Regions from separate parts of the Homo sapiens genome. Here region 1 is linked to region 2. The links come from fine-mapping of genetic effects on gene expression. Tissue or cell type: testis. Region 2 holds a variant in brackets; the other region holds the start of a gene. All regions are shown on one strand. Distances are between the middles of the regions.

Region 1 (9,375 bases), 11 kb before region 2:
TGTGCCCTGGTCCCCAGCACTGCACCTGGAGCTCTGACCAGCTGGTCCAGGTTCTGGCCTTCCCTCCTTCTCTGCATCTGCATCCTGGAAGTGTTTTCCTTCTCCTGCTTGACAGCTTGAATGCCACCTCCTCCAGGAAGCCTCCTTCCCCCCCTAGTTGGGGTTAGATGCTCCTCTTCTGTAGTTCCCTAGCACCCTGATGTAACGCCTGTCACGTGGCGCTGTGAAGTTTCTTTGACTGACTCCCTGTTACACTCTAAGCTCCTGTAGCAGTTTTGGTGTGAGCTGGACTGAATGCAGTGCCAGGTGTGTGGAATGCACTCCATCAATTGTAGCTAGTAATATTTCCCAGACATGGCACTACGCAGAGCCTGACTTTCATCAGCCTTAGCACTTTCATGTTTGTGAATCACTCCTGTTCCTTCTCTCGCATTCACTCTGCTCCAGCCACACAGGCCTCTTGGCCATTCCTTAGACTGGGCTGAGCATGCGCTTAGCTGAGGCCCTTTGCACTGGCTGTGTCTTGTTTGGAAATTCTACAGATCATTGCGTGGCTCCCTCCCTCACTAACTTCACTACTCTGCTCAGACATTATCTCAGGGGTGGTCTTCCTGATCTTATACAAAGTAGCAGTGCCACCCGCATACCCCCACCCAGCAAATTGGACAGTCCCTTTTTTCTGATTAAGCTTTATGTTTTCTATGTCAATTGTCACCTCTGACATGTTTTGTTTTGTTTTGTTTTGTTCTCTCTCTCTCTCCCATTAGAACGTCAGCTACAGAAGAGGAGGAGTTTGGGGGTGTTGTGTCATTGCTTTACACCTGTGGGTTAAAATAGTGACTGACATGGATGTGGTGGGTTGATAAGTATTTGGTTGAGTAAAGTACAGCATTATACAAAATCCTTATATTCCTCAGACATGTTGACATTGTCAGTGCTATGATGTTTCTCAGATGTTGGACTCTATTACCTTGACATTGTGTATATGTCCCCCCAACTTTTTTTTGAGACAGGGTCTCGCTGTGTTGCCTAAGCTGGAGTGCAGTGGTATGATCATGGCTTGTTACAGTCTGAATTTCTGGGCTCAAGCATCCTCCTGCCTCAGCCTCCCAAGTAACTAGGGTATATGTTCCCATGAGGTGGTCTTTGGATATTACTCAAAAAAATTTTTGTTTTGAGGTGTAGTTTTGCTCTTGTTGCCCAGGCTGGAGTGCAGTGGCACGATCTCAGCTCACTGCAACCTCCGCCTCCCAGGTTCAAGCGATTCTCCTGCCTCAGCTTCCTGAGTAGCTGGGACTACAGGCGCACACCACCACGCCTGGCTACTTTTCCTATTTTTGGTAGAGACAGAATTTCACCACGTTGGCCAGGCTGGTCTCGAACTCCTGACCTCAGGTGATCTGCCCGCCTCAGCCGCCCAAAGTGCTGGGATTACAGGCATGAGCCACCGTGCCCAGCTGACATTACTCAAATATTAAACATTCGTGTAACATTCCTCTGGGATCTGGTGATAGTTAGGTGTGGTAGTCAAAAGCCAAGGCTACACAGTCAAGCAGCTTTGCTCCAGATCCCGGCTCCTCTATTTAAAAGCTGTATGAGAGCTTGTGAGAGATGAGTTGTGAAAGTTGTGAGAATGAGGAGAGTTAGGATTTGTAAGGCACTTAGAACAGAACCAGGCATCTAACACATGCTCTATGCATGTTTGATGACTATAAGCACACAATAAGCTCTTGGTGTTAGCTATTAGTGTTAGCCTTAAGGGTTCCACAAATATTGTTTAATGAAATAATTTCCACCACATAAGGCAGCTCAGTTCCACAGTTACTCATTTGTTCATTCATTTGTCATGTCTGTGGTCTCTGTCCCTGTTGACACATTTGGTAGAAGCCATTCTTCAAGAAGAATGAGATCCCTTCAGACTCACCCCCGGGCAGGAGGGGACAGGCAGTGCTGGGGTGGCTGAGGGCTGGGAGAATAGTGCCTCAAGGGAGTCAGAAACAGTAAGGGGCTCCCCAGGGGAGCTGGGGAGGTTGTTGGGGTAACATCCTCAAATCTCCACCCCATGATAGGCTTTATTCTGTTTGTACAAGGCGGGAAAGTAATGGGGAGTTTCAAGCTTTATTTTATTTTATTATTTATTTAATTTTTGAGACAGAATCTCACTCTATCGCCCAGGCTGGAATGCAGTGGCACAATCATGGCTCACGTCAGCCTCAACCTCCCAGGCTCAAGCGATCTTCCCATCTTACCCTCCCAAGTAGCTGGGACTACAGGCCTGCACCACCATGCCTGGTTAATTTTATTTTTTGTACAGACAAGATCTCACTATGTTGTCCAGGCTGGCCTCGAACTCCTGGGCTCAACCGATCCTTTTACCTCGCTCTCCCAAAGGCTGGGATTACAGGAGTAAGTCACTGTGCCTGGCCTCAAGGTTTTATTGAACATGGAAATGACGTGTTTAAAGTCATGCTTCAGAAAGACCAACCAGGCCAAGCGCAGTGGCTCATGCTTGTAATCCCAGCACTTTGGGAAGCCAAGGTGGATGGATCACCTGAGGTCAGGAGTTCGAGACCAGCCTGATCAACATGGCGAAACCCCGTTTCTACTAAAAATAAAAAAAAATTAGCTGGATGTGGTGGCACATGCCTGTAATCCCAGCTACTCGGGAGGCTGAGGCAGGAGAATCGCTTGAACCTGGGAGGCAGAGGTTGCAGTGAGCCAAGATTGCACTGCTGCACTCTAGTCTGAGCAATAAGAGTGAAACTCAGCCTCAAAAAAAAAAAAAAAAAAAAAAAAGATAAGAAAGACCAACCTCTGTAGTAATTTTTGCTATTACATTGTTTTCTCTTTTTTTCTTTTTTTTTTTTTTTTGAGGTGGAGTCTCACTCTCTCACCCAGGCTGGAGTGCAGTGGTGCGATCTCCGCTCACTGCAACCTCTGTCTCCTGGGTTCAAGCGATTCTCCTGCCTCAGCCTCTCAAGTAGCTGAGATTATAGTCACCACCATCATGCCCAGCTAATTTTTGTATTTTTAGTAGAGACGGGGTTTCACCATGTTTGCCAGGCTGGTCTCGAACTCCTGACCTCAGGTGATCCACCCACCTTGGCCTCCCAAAGTGCTGGGATTACAGGCGTAAGCCACCACGCCAGGCCTAATTTTTCTATTTTTAGTAGACGTGAGGTTTCACCATGTTTGCCAGGCTGGTCATTATATTGTTTTATTAAATAAGGAAGAAGATTTTGTCTGTGAACATGTGGGAGGGATGGAGAGAGGAAGAGATTGAAGGTGCAGCGGTAAGTGGAACTTTAGTGATGGCTCTTGTGGAGGGTCAGAGCCCGGCTCTGGAGCAGGCTGCGTGGGTCCCAATCCTGGCCCTGCACAAGACGCTTGACTTCTCTGTGCCTCAGTTTCATCCTCTGTAAACTGAAGGTTGTGAGAATGAGGAGAGTTAGGATTTGTAAGGCACTTAGAGCAGAGCCAGCCATCTAACACATGCTGTAAACATGTTTGATCACTAGAAAATAAGACACGTGATCCAGGGGCAGAAAAGATGGAGAAAAGGGACAGCATGGGACAGGACCGACAGGACTTGGGAAGACAGTAGAAGTGAGAGAAAGGCAGAAGGGGCATCAAAAAGGGCAAAGGTGTGAAGACTGAGTCCCTGGGAGAATGATACCATTATGAAAAGGGAAAGGAGCTGAGGTGCTTGGGCGGGGGTCAGGTTGAGTTTGAGGGCCTGTAGGACATCCAGGTGGAGATGTCCTGTAGGCAGTTGGCCAGAGGTTCCTGGTGCCCAGGAGAGAGGTCCGGGCAAGGCCTCCTCCCTGCGCAGCCCCAGGAGGCACCATGCACTGTGTTCAGGGGGAGGACCACATCCCTTCCCGCCCTGGGGCCCAGCCCTGGGGCCCATGGAGTTGAGTGCTGGGCTGGTGGTGGAGGTGTGGGACTCCTTAGCTCATTAGCATGCAGACAGTGGCTGAACCCTGGAGTCAGTGAGCACCCCCACTGCAGAGTGAGGCCAAGGAGAGAAGAAGGGGATGAGTGGATCCCAGGCAGCAGCTATGAGCAGGAGAAGATGGAAGGAAGTCCTGTCCTCTCTGTAGAATTCCCCCTGCCATCTTCATCACGAGGCTGCTGTGACCGTGGAGAGGCAAAGACCAGCCGGGAATATTTTCAGGGCTGCTCTGAGGGGAGCGAAGGTCTGGCCGCAGGCATTGCCTCTCTCCTCCTTCCAGGCCCACGCCATGGCAGTCCCTCCCACTCCGCAGTCTGCTTTTGTTGCCAGCTCTGTCTGGGGCAAGTGTGGGTTGGCGGTGGGGAGGGGCAAAGGTGTGGGCGGAGGCAACTTCTCATTTTACAGATGTGGAAGCACAAGGCCAAAGAGGTTGAGTGACTAACACGAGGTTACATGACACGTTGGGGCCGAGGCCGGTGAGAAGAATGCATTTGACCCCGCGTAGGCACCATCAGCTCAAGAGGGTTTCAGCGACAACACTGAGGCTGGGAGTCGGGGAGGAGTTGGGAGGGTCTCAGACCTCCTAGGTGGGTAGAATCAGAGCTATCCAGGCGCCTCTCCCCAGATTCTCACCAATAACCCCCTGACACACAGACCCGCACACCCAGCCTGCACCACTCTCTGCCTCCTCACCGTGCAAGAAAAGAGAGAACCTGTGCTTTTGAGGCCAGTGATGGGGGCGCAGAGGCAGGGGCTAGACAAGGCCCAGCTCACCCACAGTAAGAAGGTTCTCAGGTTGGGCCACAAGAGGTGAATGGGCCAGGCCAGCTCAGGCATCAGGCTGCTTGCTCCCTCCTGGGTATAGCCGGGCCTCAGCTGTGGCAGCCTTTCACACCCTTCAAAGCCTGCCATCACCCTGCAGGCCCCTGGCCCCTACCCTTCTCACTGTTCTTCACAGGGGTTCTTCCTGCCTCTCTCATCCCCAGCAGCCCCACAGCAAAGAACCTGACACTCCTGTGCTGACCAGCCAGAGGCTGGTTGCAAAACCCCTCTCTGCTGCAGTCCTACTCCTGCCTCCCCATGCCCCTCACACTGTGCCTCTCCAGATATGGTCTCCAAAACGCGGGACAAGAAGCCGAAGCCTCGGGCAGGCATCGGCATTCTGAGTCGCCATGCTTCCCAGCTGCAGGAATTGCTGGGTCAGGTGTGAAACCACATTTCTGTCCCTCCTCATCTCTGTCTCACCTCCCCTGCTCCCCACACCTGGGCTTTGCTGGGAGTTGGGGCTGAGGCTGGAGCAGTCCTCACTGAGCACAGAAGAGCCAGGCCCCAGGCTTGTCATCCCAGCCTCACATTCCAAAACTCTCAGCCGCATCAGCTCACTCCTTGGTAGGCCTGGCACAGGCCCTCTGCACGTTAGAATAACACAAAAAAATCAAGTTTTCAGGTAACTAAAGTTCTAGGCCAGGCTTAGCCCCTCCCTTGCAGCAGGCCCTCGAAAAGTCAGTTCTTTCCCCAGGGTCTCACGGGTTCTGTTGCCATCGCATGTGCCGCTATGTGCATACATTTCCGTTTCTCCACCAGATGGAAAGTGCCTTAAAGATATGGGTTGTGTATCTCAAGCCTTCCTGCTCCATCCCTTGACCTGGTAGAGTTCAATATTGAAGAATACAGGGTTTGGGGTCAGATCAATCTGGGTGCCAATTCTGACTCTCCCAGTTACTAGATGATTGACCTTAGGTAAATCTGAGCCTCAGTTTCCTCATCTTTACAATGGGTATCCATGAACTGATTTACTTATTCAAACAATATTTATGAGGGCCAACTCCATGTCAAACACTGATGTGTGTACAACAGTGACCACAACAGACACAAATCCCGGCCCTGTGGGGTTACTTCTTAGTGGAGACTATTGGTGCCTGGCCCAGAGAGTGATTGTGAAAACTCAGTGAGATGACATTTGGACAGGGCTCAGCACATACGTCATATGTCAGCCTGGCATACGACAGGCCTGACAAGTTAGAGCCATTATTGTGAACATCCATTCTGAACCACAGAACCATTTGCTGAGAATTTACTGTGTGCCGGCACCATGCTAGGTGCTAGGGAGACAAAGACGTGGAACTCTCATCCACACCCTCAAGGAACTTATAGTCGAATGCACCTACCGAATGTCAAATGCCACCATCCTCATCATTGTTCAGAAGCTTATAACCAGCACCAACTTGTATTACATGCAACAAAGAACCATGACATTCTAGAATGTCAGGTACAACAGAGACAGCTGTTTGTCCCCCAGTATCCTTCAGACAAAGCCATATATGATTGAAGGTTATCAGTACTGTGCTTTTGGAGGATTCAGAAGAAGTTATATCTGATTGGGAGATTGAAAAGGATTGGCCTGAAGGAGAGGTGGTTTTTGAACTGCATCTTAAAGGGTAGGCTTCAACAGACAAGAGACAGTGATGTTGGGGGAGGAGAATGAGGCCCTGCAGGGGACCAGAATGGTGTGCAAATGAAGGCGTGGAGGAAGGAAAACATGAGGCGCCAACTTTGAGCTGAATCCTAGGAAGAAGGTGGCCTAGCCCAGAGTGAGGTTGGAGGCTGATCCAGGCAAAGCAGCTGTATTCACAGGGACAGGAGGCAACTGTCTAAGAGGTGGGGTTTGAGGGACCCCCTTCCCAGCCGTCTACCCTTGGCCGAGACTATAACAGGCTCAATATTCCACCACTAAAAATTCATTTCCTTGAGTAAGCCTCCAGTAGGAGACAGACCATCCCCAGAGGAATAACATGAAAGGATAAGTCTGGGCCAAGGAGGGAGTGATGAGGAAAAGACAGCTGGGAACAGCGGAGAGCCAGGCGGGGCCAGGGGCCAGAGCCCTCAACTTGCCAGGCCTCTTGCATTACCCTACTTGTCCAGGCCATCCATACTGACAGAGCACTGCTCGGCTGTGGGAGGCAGGACTGGGTCACTGGAAAGGGGTGGGCAGGTGTCGGTGCTGTGTCCATGACCTCCCTTTGCCTGGCCAGGGCTCCTCAGCCCTTCCTGCTCTGCCTGCGGGACGTGGGCAGGGCCACGTCCACACAGCAATGCCATTTTTCAGTGCAGTTTGGCCCGGCAGCAGTGTGGGTCACTCCTTGTGTGCTTGGGTGGGGACCAGAACTCATTTATTCAACCAAGTGTTTCCAGCCCAGCCTGAGAGTCATGTCGTGAGCTAGGAGAGCAGAAGCAAGCAAGAGACCCCCTCCCCGCCCTCCAGGAGCTCACAGTCTAGAGGGGGAAGCAGGTCTTAAGTAAATAGCCACATGCTGGAGTGCAGAATCACACATGGCGAGTGCCTCAAAGCCAAAGCCCAAGCTGCCTTGTGGAAGAATAACAGGGCAGTAATGCAGATGGGTGGAGGAGCACGTCCGGGGGAGGCCTCCAGCAGCCCCGAGTGATGAGGTGGGGTTGGCGAGGGGATGAGTGTTCTAAACAGAGGGAACACCTGTGCAAAGGCTGTAAGATGGGGAAGTACCTGGGGCATCAGGCAGATCATGCCAGCCTTGTGGACAGGGGAGGGCTTTGGGAAGTTACAGAGTAAGGGAGGTTGAAGGGGTGGGCACCCACTCAGATTGGCCATTTAATTAATTAATTAATTTATTTATTCATTTATTTTGAGACAGTCTCACTCTGTCACCCATGCTGGAGCTGAAGTACAGTGGTACGATCTCAGCTCAGTTCAACCTCCGCCTCCTGGGTTCAAGCAATTCTTGTGGCTCAGCCTCCCGAGTACCTAGGATTGCAGGCATGCACACCATGCCCAGCTAATTTTTGTATTTTTAGTAGAGACAGGGTTTCACCATGTTGCCCAAGCTGGTCTGGAACTCCTGACCTTAAGTGATCCACCTGCCTCAGCCTCCCAAAGTGCTGAGATTACAGGTGTGAGCCACCGCATCCAGCCCAGATTGGCCATTTTAGAAGCCCCCCTGGCTGCAGGACAGAGAAGAGACACGCGGAAGCTACCGCTGCCATTATGGGAGAGGTGATGGTGGCCTGGGCTTGTGTTGGGCATTGAAGGTGGATAAAATTCACAGATTCAGGGGCTGTTTAAGGGGGGATCTGGTGAAGGGCTGCCTGGCGGTAGAAGGTGAGAGAGAGGGAGAGGTTTCCAGCTTGAGTGGACATGAGGAAGACAGAGGAGGGTCCGGCCCATTCCTGGAGGGTTGCCATTGCTAGTGAGTGGCTTTGGCTCCTTCCCAAGCCCCTTCACTCTTGTTTGACTGGGTTGATAATGGTAAGAATTGCTGCCATTTATGCAGCACTTAACATATGCTAGGTCCCATGCTAAGGATGCTACGTGGATTGTTTTGTTTAATCCTCCCAACAGTGGCAGGTCCTCTTTCTCATCTCCATTTTATAGACAGGAAACTGGGACTTAGAGAGGTTAAGTAACTTGCCCAAGGTTGCCTACAACTGGCAGGTGATGGGGCCAGCTGCCCAGCCCTGCAGTCAGCCCCCAGAGCCCAGCTCTCAGCCTCTATGCCGTACTGCTTCAGGAACTTGGGGTCTCAGCCTGCCAGTGAGGTTAGGTGAGGTTAATGGCAGCTCCTTCACTGAGCCAGGAGGCTCCCTGCACGGTGTGAGGTGTGACACGTCCAGGTACTTAACAAGCGCCACATCCCTACCCTTTCTCCCCAGCCAAAGCTGTTTCACAAGCCAGCAGCCTCGTAAATATTTCAGCAGTGTCTGTGTAGTCGAGGCTGTGAAGCCTGTCCTCTGGAGCACTTGTGACAGCGAGATCTGGGAGATGTCTCAGGGCCTGTTGCAAGCGTTTGATCAGCTGCATTTTCAAAAAGACCTTTCCCTGAGCAGCTGACAGTCTCTGGGGTGAAAGAGATTTGCAGACTTTTTCTGGAGAGAGGCCAGAGCATGAGCCGACCCAGGGGCCCAGTTGGAGCCTTTTGGCTGTAGCTGGCCTCAGTCATTCAGTCCACAATGCAGAGAGAACCCCTACTGGGTGGCTGACACTGTGCCAGGCCCCACCCTCAAGATGCTAGAGAAGAGATAGGACAGGCCCAGGTTAAACTCAGTACCAGGCAGGCTGTGGAGTAAGGAAGGACCACAGCAGAGTAAAGCAATGGAGACCGAGGTCTCAGAAACCCTCAGGGAAGTTGGCATTTTAACTGGTCTTTGAAGACCAGGTAAGGCTTTTAAAAATGTATATTAAACAAATTAATTTTTCCCATTATATATGTAGTTAAGACATGTTCATAATTTTTTTTTTTTTTTGAGACAGTCTTGCTCTGTCGCCCAGGCTGGAGTGCAGTGGCGCAATCTCGGCTCACTGTAAGCTCCGCCTCGTGGGTTCACGCCATTCTCCTGCCTCAGCCTCCTGAGTAGCTGGGACTACAGGCACCTGCCACCACACCCGGCTA
Region 2 (10,291 bases):
TGAAGGATAACATTTTGGCAAATGCAATTGAAGGAAGGGGTGGAAAGGCATTCAGAATGGAGGAGACAGCAGAGCAAGGGTGTGGCGTCTACAAGCTCTTTACATACCCAAATCAGAAGTGATGGAGCTCACTTCCGGACGAAGCTCAGGTGGGACCCTTGAGCTTCCCAGACCCCCTACTTCTTAGCTCTCTGATTGGTTAATGGGCCACACCCTTGGCCCAGCCTCAGCCCATTTTCCTGCCTGGCACCACAGGCTGGAGTTCTGGGCAGGGACACAAGGCTGCAGCCTCCCTTCTTCCTGGCAAATTCTCCTGGGGAGGTGGAGCCTGTTGCTTGGATAATGGAGTTGTGTTTCCAGCTCCAAAACTAGGTAAAGAGGACCAGATCCCAGAATTGATAATCTAGATCTGTTCTGTCCAATGTGGTAGCCACTAGCCACGTGTGGTTAGTCAGCACTTAATATTCAGCTAGTCCAAGTTGAGATGTGCTATCAATGTGAAATGCACGCTGGATTTCAAAGACAGTATGAAAAGCAGATACAAACTATCTTATTTATAATTTTATATTGATTACATGTTGAAGTGATCGCATTTTAGGTATGTTGGGTTAAATAAAATGTTATTAAAATTAACTTTACCTGTTCTTTATATATTTTTTTATGTGACTATTAAAATTTATTTATTTATTTATTTATTTATTTATTTATTTATTTATGGAGATGGCCTTGCTCTGTCACCCGGGCTGGAGTGCACTGGCATGGTCACAGCTCACTGCAGCTTTGACCTCTCTGGCTCCAGTGATCCTCCTACCCCAGTCTCCCGAGTAGCTGGGACTACAGGCACATGCCACCATGTCCAGCTAATTTTTTTTTTTTTTTGTATTTTTTGTAGAGGCAGGATCTCTCAATGTTGCCCAGGCTGGTCTCGAACTCCTGGGCTCACGTGACCTGCCCGCCTCAGCCTCCCAAATTTCTGGGATTACAGGCCTGAGCCACCACGCCCAGCCCAAAACAAGTTAAATTATGTGTGTAACTCACATTTATGTCTCATGTTATTTTTCTTTCTGTTGAACTATGCTGATCTAGACTGAACCATTCCCCACTCTCTGGAGGGCAAACCCACAGGGCGATGTTATGGGGAGACTCGGATGGGAGGGACTGTGACATGTGGGAGAAGGATCAATCCAGACCAGGCTGGAGACAGGAGGAATGTGAGGGGGCTGCACAACTAAGCCTGACCAGGCTCCTGGGAAGAGGGGCGCGTGGAGCAGATATTTTCTCCTCCACTCTCATATTTCCCTGTTAATAGACTGTGAGCAACCTGGGAGAAATAAGACCGTGCTTTATTCATCGCCACGCCCTCGGGGCCAAACGCAGCGCCTGCCATAGAGCGAGTGCTTGCAAACATGCACTGAATTAATGAGTGAGTGAGGGATAGAATGGGGAGAGAATCCAGACAGCAAAGAACTGTGCTGAGATGGTGCCAGTCCTGCCTGGATGGTTCCAGGGTGCAGGGTGTTTGGAGATTTTAATCCTTAAATCCTTTAGGCTATAATCTCCCAGAGAGCGGGGTGGCCACACTCTATACCCACATATGCACTTCCCAGTAGCTGGAGACAGCTGGGAACAGGCAGTGAGGACACCTGGGGTCATCACATCCAGCCTCCTGCCCCTCTGAGCCCCTTCAAAGGAGTAGATTCTTCTCCCTCCTGCAGGCAGCCTTGGAGCTCCAGCCTGCTCCTTCCCCAAACACAAACACACACACACACACACACACGCCTGGGAGAAACTTCAGTGGGTCTCTCCACACTCAGGCCAGGATGGTAAAGGTTGCCCAGGCAGCCCAGGGAAGGAGGTAAACATGCAGCTGCCTCCACCTGGCCCGGTTCTGCCCGCACTTCAAGCTGGGGCCCTACCCTTGCCTAAGTCATGGGTCAGCGACTCTCAGGAGCACCTTCCTCACACACATTGACTCAAGGTGAGGTACCACAGGCAAGTTTCCACAGTCCTCACCCTTAGCAAGCCTCTTCTGGCCCAGCAGTGGGCAAGGTAGGGATGTGGCAGCATGGGGAGGACCTGTGAAGGCAGAAAAGACACCACAGTGGCTCACATGGATGCACGGTTAGCTCTGTACTCTGAGAGGCAGCCTATTGTACAACATAAGCAGCAGGGCTCTAGAGTTCCTCCACCTGCCCACCTGCTGTGTGTAACCCTGGGTAAGTTAATCAACTTTTTTTTTTTTTTTTGAGATGGGGTCTTGCTTTGCTGCCCAGGCTGGAGTGCAGTGGCATGATCCTGGCTCACTGCAGCCTTGACCTACCGGCCCCAAACAATCCTCCTACCTCAGCGTCCCAAGTAGCTGGGACCACAGTATGCACCGCCACACCTGGCTAGTTATTTTTATTTTAATTTTTTTGTAAAGATCGGGTCTCCCTACATGGGTCAGGCTGGTCTCAAACTCATGGGCTCAAGGGATCTTCCCACCTGGGCCTCCCAAAGTGCTAGGACTACAGGTGTGAGCCGGCACACCCAGCCCACCACTAACTTCTTTAGACCTTGGGTTCCTCCAAAATGGGCACAGTACAAGTCCCCTGCCCATAGCGTGGTTCAGAGATTGACTGAAAACAAATCAAGTTCTTGGAGCAGTGCCTGGCACCTAGTGAGTGTTGGGCATTGGTGATCACCATGACACAGTTTAGTTCCCTTTGCAGTTGGGGAAATGAGGTTCCAAGAGGATCAATTCCTAGAAGCAGTTATAAAGACAAAACGGTTTTACATCATTCAGATTTTTCTTTAACTTTTTATTATGGAAGTTTTCCAACATATATAAAAGTGGAGAGAGTAATATAATAACCCCAGGCGCTCATCACCCCACTTCACTGATTACCAACTCACGGCCAATTGAGCTTCATCTCTAGCCCAGCCATACCCCCTGGGTTCTTTTGAAGCAAATCTCAGACATCGTACCATCTCATCTGTAACTATTTCAGATGCGTCTCTAAGAGAAGAGGACTTTAACAAATAGCTATACTACTATTATTATGCCTAAAAAACTAACAATAATTTAATATTAAATACTTAGTCACTGTTCCAATTCTCCAGTTTTCTCATTTACACAATTGTTCAAATTAGGATTCAGATAAAGTCCATATACTGTATTGCAAATGATTAATGCTTCTTAAGCCTCTCTCTCTCTTTTTTGTTTCTTTTCATGCCTGGCTTAATTTTTTCATTTTTTGTAGAGACGTGGTCTTGCTATGTTGCCCAGGCTGGTCTCAAACTCCTGGCCTCAAGCGATCCTCCCACCTCAGCCTCCCAAAGCACTGGGATTACAGGCATGAGCCACTGTGCCTTAAGGCTCTTTTATTTATTTATTTATTTTTGAGATAGGATCTCACTCTGTCACCCAGGCTGGAGTGCAGTGGCGGGATCTTGGCTCACTGCAACCTCTGCCTCCCAGGTTCAAGCAATTATTGTGCCTCAGCCTCCCAAGTAGCTGGGATCACGGATGTGCACCACCATGTCCAGCTAATTTTTGTGTTTTTAGTAGAGACGGGGTTTCACCATGTTTGCCAGGTTGGTCTCAAACTCCTGACATCATGTGATCTGCCTGCCTCAGGCTCCCAAAGTGCTGGGATCACAGGCGTGAGCCACCGCGCCCGGCCTTAAGTCTCTTTTAAATTATAGGTCCCCTTTTTCTCTTTTTCCACCCTTACAATGTATTTGTTGAGGAAACCAGGTCATTTTTGCTGTAGAATTTCCCAGAGTCTGGAGTTTGATTGCATCCCTAAATCTAGAGGCTTGAAAATCCTATAGTTTTCAAAATAATGAGCGAGTTCCCTAGCATCTCTGAAAGTGATCATTAATTTTTATCATAAACTTATGGATTTACATACATTTGAAATGTTTCAACACATTGCCATTATAGTTAGGGTATTTTGTTTTTCTTTTTTGTCTAGATGGAGTCTTGCTCTGTCATCCAGGCTGGAGTACAATGGCGCAATCTCGGCTCACTGCAACCTCTGCCTCCTGGGTTCAAGCAATTCTCCTGCCTCAGCCTCCCGAGTAGCTGAGATTACAGGCACCCGCCACCACACCCGGCTAACTTTTTGTATTTTTAGTAGAGACGGGGTTTCACCATGTTGCCCAGGCTGGTCTCGAACTCCTGACCTCATGATCTGCCCACCTCGGCCTCCCAAAGTGCTGGAATTACAGCTGTGAGCCATTGCGCCCAGCCAGTTAGGATATTTTTTAAAAATTGTTTTTCCAGCTTAAGTTTAGGGAGTAAGGGTGATTACAAGGGACAACATAGAAAAATTGAGAGAACTCTGGCTTTGGAGGCAAACAACCCGTGGGTGGAATCCTGGCTCCACCACTTACAAGCTGGATGGCTTTGGTCAAGTTACTTCACTTCTCTTTCCTTCTATTTCCCCACCCCCCGATAAGGAAATGATTAATAATAACTAACATTTCCTGAGTGCTTACTGTCTTCCAGGCATCGTGCTCAGCGTCTTAAAGACATGATGGCAATTTAATCCTCCTATCAGTTCAGTGAAGCAGGAGTCGTTATTATTGTCCCCACTTTAGAGATGAGGAAGAAACTGAAGCACAGGTGGTTGAGCAATTTGTCCAAGGTTACACACCTAGAAAGGGGCGCGGCAGGGACCTGAACCGGGGCAGTCTGACTCCACAGCCCACTGTCCTCTAGCGGTTGTTGTGGAGAAGAGAGAGGGTGATGGTGATGCCCTCCTGCAGGCCCTGATAGATGGGAAGACCAGGCCAGAAGGTGAGCAGGGCCGTCCCTGGCACTTCCCCTCAGGGATGGAGCACAGTCAAGCCTGGCGTGTGGGGGGTGCAACCCCTATTGCAGCTGCAGTCTCTCCCCTTCCCCAGACTCCCCCCTCACCTGCTGTGACCCAGACCCTTGCATAAGAACACAGC[T/C]GTTCTTGGTGAGTTCTGTTTCCATTGCCATTATGGTTCTCCTCCTAATTGTTTCATTAATCAGAAAGGGCTGATCAATGCTGGGAGGCCAAGGTGGGAGGATTGCTTAAGGCCAGGAGTTCAGCCTGGGCAACGTAGTGAGACCCTTCACCTCTACCCCCGCCTCTACCAAAAATTAAATAAATACAATTAGCTAGGCGTGGTGGCACATGCCTGTGGTTCCAGCTACTCAGGAGGCTGAGGAGGGAGGATTGCTTGAACCCAGGAGGTCAGGGCTGCAGTGAGCTGTGTTCTTACCACTGCACTCCAGCTTGTGTGACAGAGCAAAATCCTCTTGTAGTTGTGGGTGGGGGGGCGGTAGGCAGGGTGCAGGGAAAGAGAGAGAGAAGGAAGGAAGGAAGGGAGAAAGAGAGAGACAGAGAAAAAGAAAGAAGAAAGGAAAAGAAAGAAAGAAGAAAGGAAAGAAAGAAAGAGACGGAGAGAGGAAAGAAGGAAGGAAAAAAAGGAAGGAAGGAAGGAAAGAGGGAGAGAGAGAAACAGAGAAAAAGAAAGAAGAAAAAGAAAGAAAGAAAGAAAGAAAGAAAAAGAAAGAAAGAAAGGAAAAGAAAAGAAAGGAAAAGGAAGGAAGGCGGGAGGAAAGAAGGAAAAAAGGAAGGGAGGGAGGGAGGGAAAGAGAGAGAAAGGGCTGACTGCAGGAAATCTCCCCATCCCCATGCTTCTCCAGAATCAGCTGGCCTGGGGGGTCCTTGGGTCACCTTAGAGGGCAGAGATCCTGAGTGCAGTTGGGCAGAGTGAGGTATTGATAGGAACACTAAGGATAGTACTAACAGTCATCATTTACACCTCGTGTGTGCCAGGAAGGGGCCAGGTCCCACATGATCTCAGTTCATCTTTACAACACCCTGAAGGATGGTCTTGTTATCTTCTCCATTTTGCAGATGAGGAAACTGAGGCTGAGAGGGTAGAGAACTTTGCCTGAGGTCACTCAGCAGGTAGGTGGTGGAGCCAGGGGTGTAACCCGGGCTGCGGGCCTCCACATCAGATACAGACAGAACAGGAAGGTGTTGCAGAGGCTGGCGATGCTGCGATTCTCTGGGTAGCAAAGGGAGGGGACATTCCCAGCAGAAGGAACGGTTTGTGTAAAGGTGTGGAGGTGTGATACGGTGTGGCCTGTTCAGGGTGGTGACTAACAGTGGCCAGAGTGAAGGGTGTGTAGAGAGGAGTGCCAGCAGATGAGGCAAGGGGCTGGGGACTGGGGCCAAGGTGGAAGAACTTCAGGTTCCAGGCCAAGGAAATGAACTTTGTCCTTGGGTAGAGGGGTGCCACAGGAGGCATTGAACAAGAGTGCAACCTTGGGTTTGTATGGTGAGCCTCCAGCAATACCTTGGCAGGTGGGATCCTCATGTCCACCCCGGGTGCCAGCCACATTTTACAGGCTGGGAAACAGAATGGTTATGAGACCGGCTCAGACCACACAGCAATAGACAACTGGCCCCAAGCCAGTTCTCTCGTTGTCACAGGACGTTGCTTCGAAACTCAGGTCATAGTGAGAAAGGCAGGGGCATCCTTCCGTTCCTCACTTCTCCAGCCCTGTGCCTGCTCAGCTCACTGGAGAACGTGAAATGAAGATCAACTGGACCGAGGCCCAGGCATATCTGCTCACCAAGAATAAGACAGAAAACAATAAAAGCAAATCATGGAGCTCCAGCTATGTGCTAGGCACTGGGCTGGGAGGAAACTAAACAGAGAACAACAGTGCCAGGCACTCTCTCTGATAATGAGTGTTCTGGACTGAGGGTCCCCCAGACTGGCCTAGGAGGTGCTGTCCAATCCGCCTGAAGAGCTGGAATGGGCTCCAAGTGGAGAGAACTGTGGGATTGCTGGCTCAGCCCCCAACTATGCAGTGACCTTGGACGGAGCGGGCCCTCTGGGAGCCTTGGCAAGCCAGTTGCTAAGAGGGGAGACTGCACCAGAGAAGGGATTTTTAATATATGAAACCTTGGGGAGCTCCTCAAGCTGACTCGGGAGGTCTGGGGTAGGGACTCTGATTGGGGTGTTTTGACAAGTTCCACCGGAAACTCGGAAAGCACACCTGGTTAGAAATAACTAGATGATCAAGGTCCTTCCAGATTCAGTTCAACAAATTCAACACAACACATGTTTACTGAGCACACACCATGCCAGGTGCCATTCTGCAATGTTAGGATACATCAGTGAGCAAAATAACAAAAAGTTCTAGAAGTTAGAGATACTGTGGACAGGGGAAAGCGGTGCTAGGCAAGGTGGTGAGGAGGGCAGGGATGTGGCAGTTCCAGGACTCAGCAGGATGGGCAGGGCTGGCCTTGTTGAGAAGGAGACTGGAAAAAGCAAGGGAGCCAACTGAGTGACATTTGGGGGAAGAGCATTCCAAGCAGTCAACAGCAAGAGCAAAGGCCCTGACAGGGAGCACGCAGGCAGGGTGGCCAGCGTGGCTGGAGCGGAGTGGCCAAGGGCTGGGGTGGGGTGAGGGGCAGGGGCCAGCTGTGGAATGCTGCTCCTACGTGCTAGTGTTCTAAGACTCATTCAGCACTGCCCTGAGTATCTTGACTCTGAACCTGTCCCTGCCCTGACCCCTTCCCCAATCAACTTTAATTTTAGGGACCCACCCATCACAGTAAATGCCAGCACTGCTGATGCCAAAACAATGTTATTTGTGTAAGTATGTGTTTTGTATTTTACCGCCTTAATCCTGTCTTCAACCTCTCCTCTTCTGTCCCACCCAAGTATCTGCCCTTCCTTTCTTGACTCCTTCCAGAGGCCCTCGGAATTTGTGACCTGAAGGAAGAAGAGCAGGGCCGTGGGAAGTATGTAACCAGTGTCATGCCCCTGGTCCCAAGGAAGCAGTGGCTTGGTAAAGAGGGGACCCCCGTCAATAACTCCCTGTAATTACTGGGCACCCACTCTGAGCTCCTCAGTGGAATCCTAAGGTTAATAAGACTGTCTCTAGCCACTGGGGCTCCCAGCCTGGAGTGAGGTAAGAGGAGTGGAGCCGGCTGGGGAGGGAGACGAACACATACACAGAAGATTCAGACACACTTGCAATGTATTGCTGGGGATTCTCCAGCATTGGCATGATGGAGAGGGTGGAGAATCATTTGACCGCCTCCGCCTAGGATTGCAGAGTTCAGCTGGCCATCATCCACCAGCCGGGGGACTGTGCACATCAGTTAACCTCTCCTCTCAGGCCTTGAAAAGCACCAGGCTTAGTACACGTTTGTTAAATGAATGCACTGCAGTTTTTTTGCTTGTTAAAGGCAGGTAATAATAATGATATTGCTGACTAAGGGCTCCCATCCACTCCCAGTGAGCCCGGTGCCCCCCCGGGCCTCCTCAGTGAGCTGAGGAGGCTCAGCAGTGCCTGCACGTCCCCTCGCCACAATGTCATGTGCCACCTCTTCAAAGGAGGGATGTACCAGCTAGTGGACGTGACCTTGACTGCAAAGGGCGGCACGCAGCTGATGTAATGGTCGCTTAAGTGTTCACAAATGTAAGTCATTACTATTATAAGTGGTGGGTGATCAAGTGGCTAGGGGTGCCATCTTTAGCAAATAAAAATATAGGACGCACAGTTAAATTTGAATTTCAGATAAGAATTTCTTAGCATAAGTATGCCCTATGCAATATTTGGGACACATTTATATCAAAAAAAACTCAATATTTATCTGAAATTCAAATGTAACTGTGTGTCCTAGATTTTATCTGGCAGCCTTATTGATGGTGGCTTATTGACTGGCTGGGAATGACAGGGGTGTAGGCCAGGAAATGGCTCTGTGAAGGCTGCCTAGAACTGAATCGAACATGAGGATGAGTCAGTGTCAAGACTCCCAGTGGGGCCATCGGATCATTACTGCATGATCGTCTTAAGCCTTTGTTAGTGAATCCCTCAGACTCACGCCTTCTTCTCTCCAGGCCTGAACACCCTGTCCTACCTGGTCCTACCTGGATGCTGGCCTCAGTAAGCTCCTGGGCTCATTGAAGATGAACCTAGCAGTAGTATTTACACCACTTGTTGTGTGCCCACTGTGGGCCCGGCGCCATGCCGAGTGCTCTATGGATGTGAGGTAATGAAGCTGCATGGGTGGGATTCAAATGCAGGGTGGTCTGACCCCAGGGCCAAGATCTCTTTCTATTGCACCATGCTATGGCCTGATCAAAGACTCAAGCATCTAGGACAGAGAAAGAGGGAGCAGGAGGGGACACAGAATATCCTAAAGTGGCCTCCTACTGTGTCCCAGGCACTGTGTTAGGATTCACTGAGTTGTCACAAAAATCCTGCAAAGTTCATTCTCGAGGACGCTCTGGAATTTAAATACCTTGCCAAGATCATACAGATTAAGTGGTGGAGCAGGGATTTGAACGGAGGTCTGTCTCACTGCAAAGCCCAAGTAATTTTGCCCCCTTTTGTGTGTATGCATCCTGGGATGATGTGTGCATGCATGTGTGTGTGTATGCGTGTGTGCGTGCATGTGTGCATGTGTGTGTGTATATGCGTGCATGTGTGTGTATGTGTGTGTGCATGTGTGTGCATGCGTGCATGTGTGTGTGTATCGTGCATGTGTGCATATGCGTGCATGTGTGTGTGTGTGTGTGCATGTGTGTGTTCCTACAGTCACATCCCACCTTCGGAGTGGCGCTTTCCGGTCCTACCCAGCCCTTCCTCTCTTGGGATGGGTCTAGGGCCTTGGAGGTGATTAGACTCTAGTGGTGCTGGCACAGGGCTGGCTTTCTCAGCATATTTCAGGGGACTGTGTCCTCTGCCTGCTGTCCCCCAATCAGTAGCTTCTCTTGGGACTTGCCCTCCCCTGCCAGGGCTAAGGTCTGGTTGGTTCCCAGGCCCCTGGGCCTTGGACAGGGGAGCTGGGGGGTGAGGGGTGGTGGATGGTGGGAGAGGGCAGGACCGGCAAAGAAGAGACTGACAAATACCATGGATGTCTCATTTTCAGTTCCTGCTCTGTCACTCCCACACACTTGCTCTCTGCAATCCCTAGAATCAAACAGTATTCAAACTGGAAGAGGCCTTAGAAAATAACTGGTCTTCTCTACTCATTCTACAGAGAAACGGAGGCCCAGAAAGCAGAAATGATGTGTTAAGATCACTCATCAAGCTGATGGTACAGAGGTTAGAGCCTCTGCTCCCTGCTCTACCTCTTTCCCTTACTCCACATCCATGCCTGTCTCTTCCAATGGGTCGGCATCCACCCTGACACATTAAAGCCAAAAGGAACCTTAAGCTAGGGAAGGGGCTCCAGAACTTTAGTGAAAGATTCAAACATGTCCACTCAACTCAATGGAGAAAATACAATATTCAATC

Evidence for each region. PIP is the estimated chance that this variant, and not a neighbour inherited with it, causes the effect.
Region 1: LINC02395 starts here. The variant in region 2 is the best candidate, but not a certain one, in a credible set for the expression of LINC02395 in testis (GTEx, PIP 0.74).

The regions. Positions count from the first base shown.
Region 1 is chr12:49,905,691-49,915,065 of GRCh38, forward strand. LINC02395 (long intergenic non-protein coding RNA 2395) reads left to right here and starts at 6,263. Exons shown (of 6, transcript NR_110048.1): 1 at 6,263-6,393. It overlaps LINC02396 (long intergenic non-protein coding RNA 2396), which reads right to left and starts at 6,173. Exons shown (of 2, transcript NR_146570.1): 1 at 6,124-6,173; 2 at 3,192-3,423.
Region 2 is chr12:49,916,047-49,926,337 of GRCh38, forward strand. LINC02395 (long intergenic non-protein coding RNA 2395) reads left to right here. Exons shown (of 6, transcript NR_110048.1): 2 at 5,880-7,635; 3 at 7,736-8,467; 4 at 8,890-9,041; 5 at 9,216-9,342; 6 at 10,035-10,291. Among named protein-coding and RNA genes, the nearest start is that of LINC02395, 9.2 kb to the left of the region's middle. The variant T/C (reference allele first, on the strand shown) is at 4,942.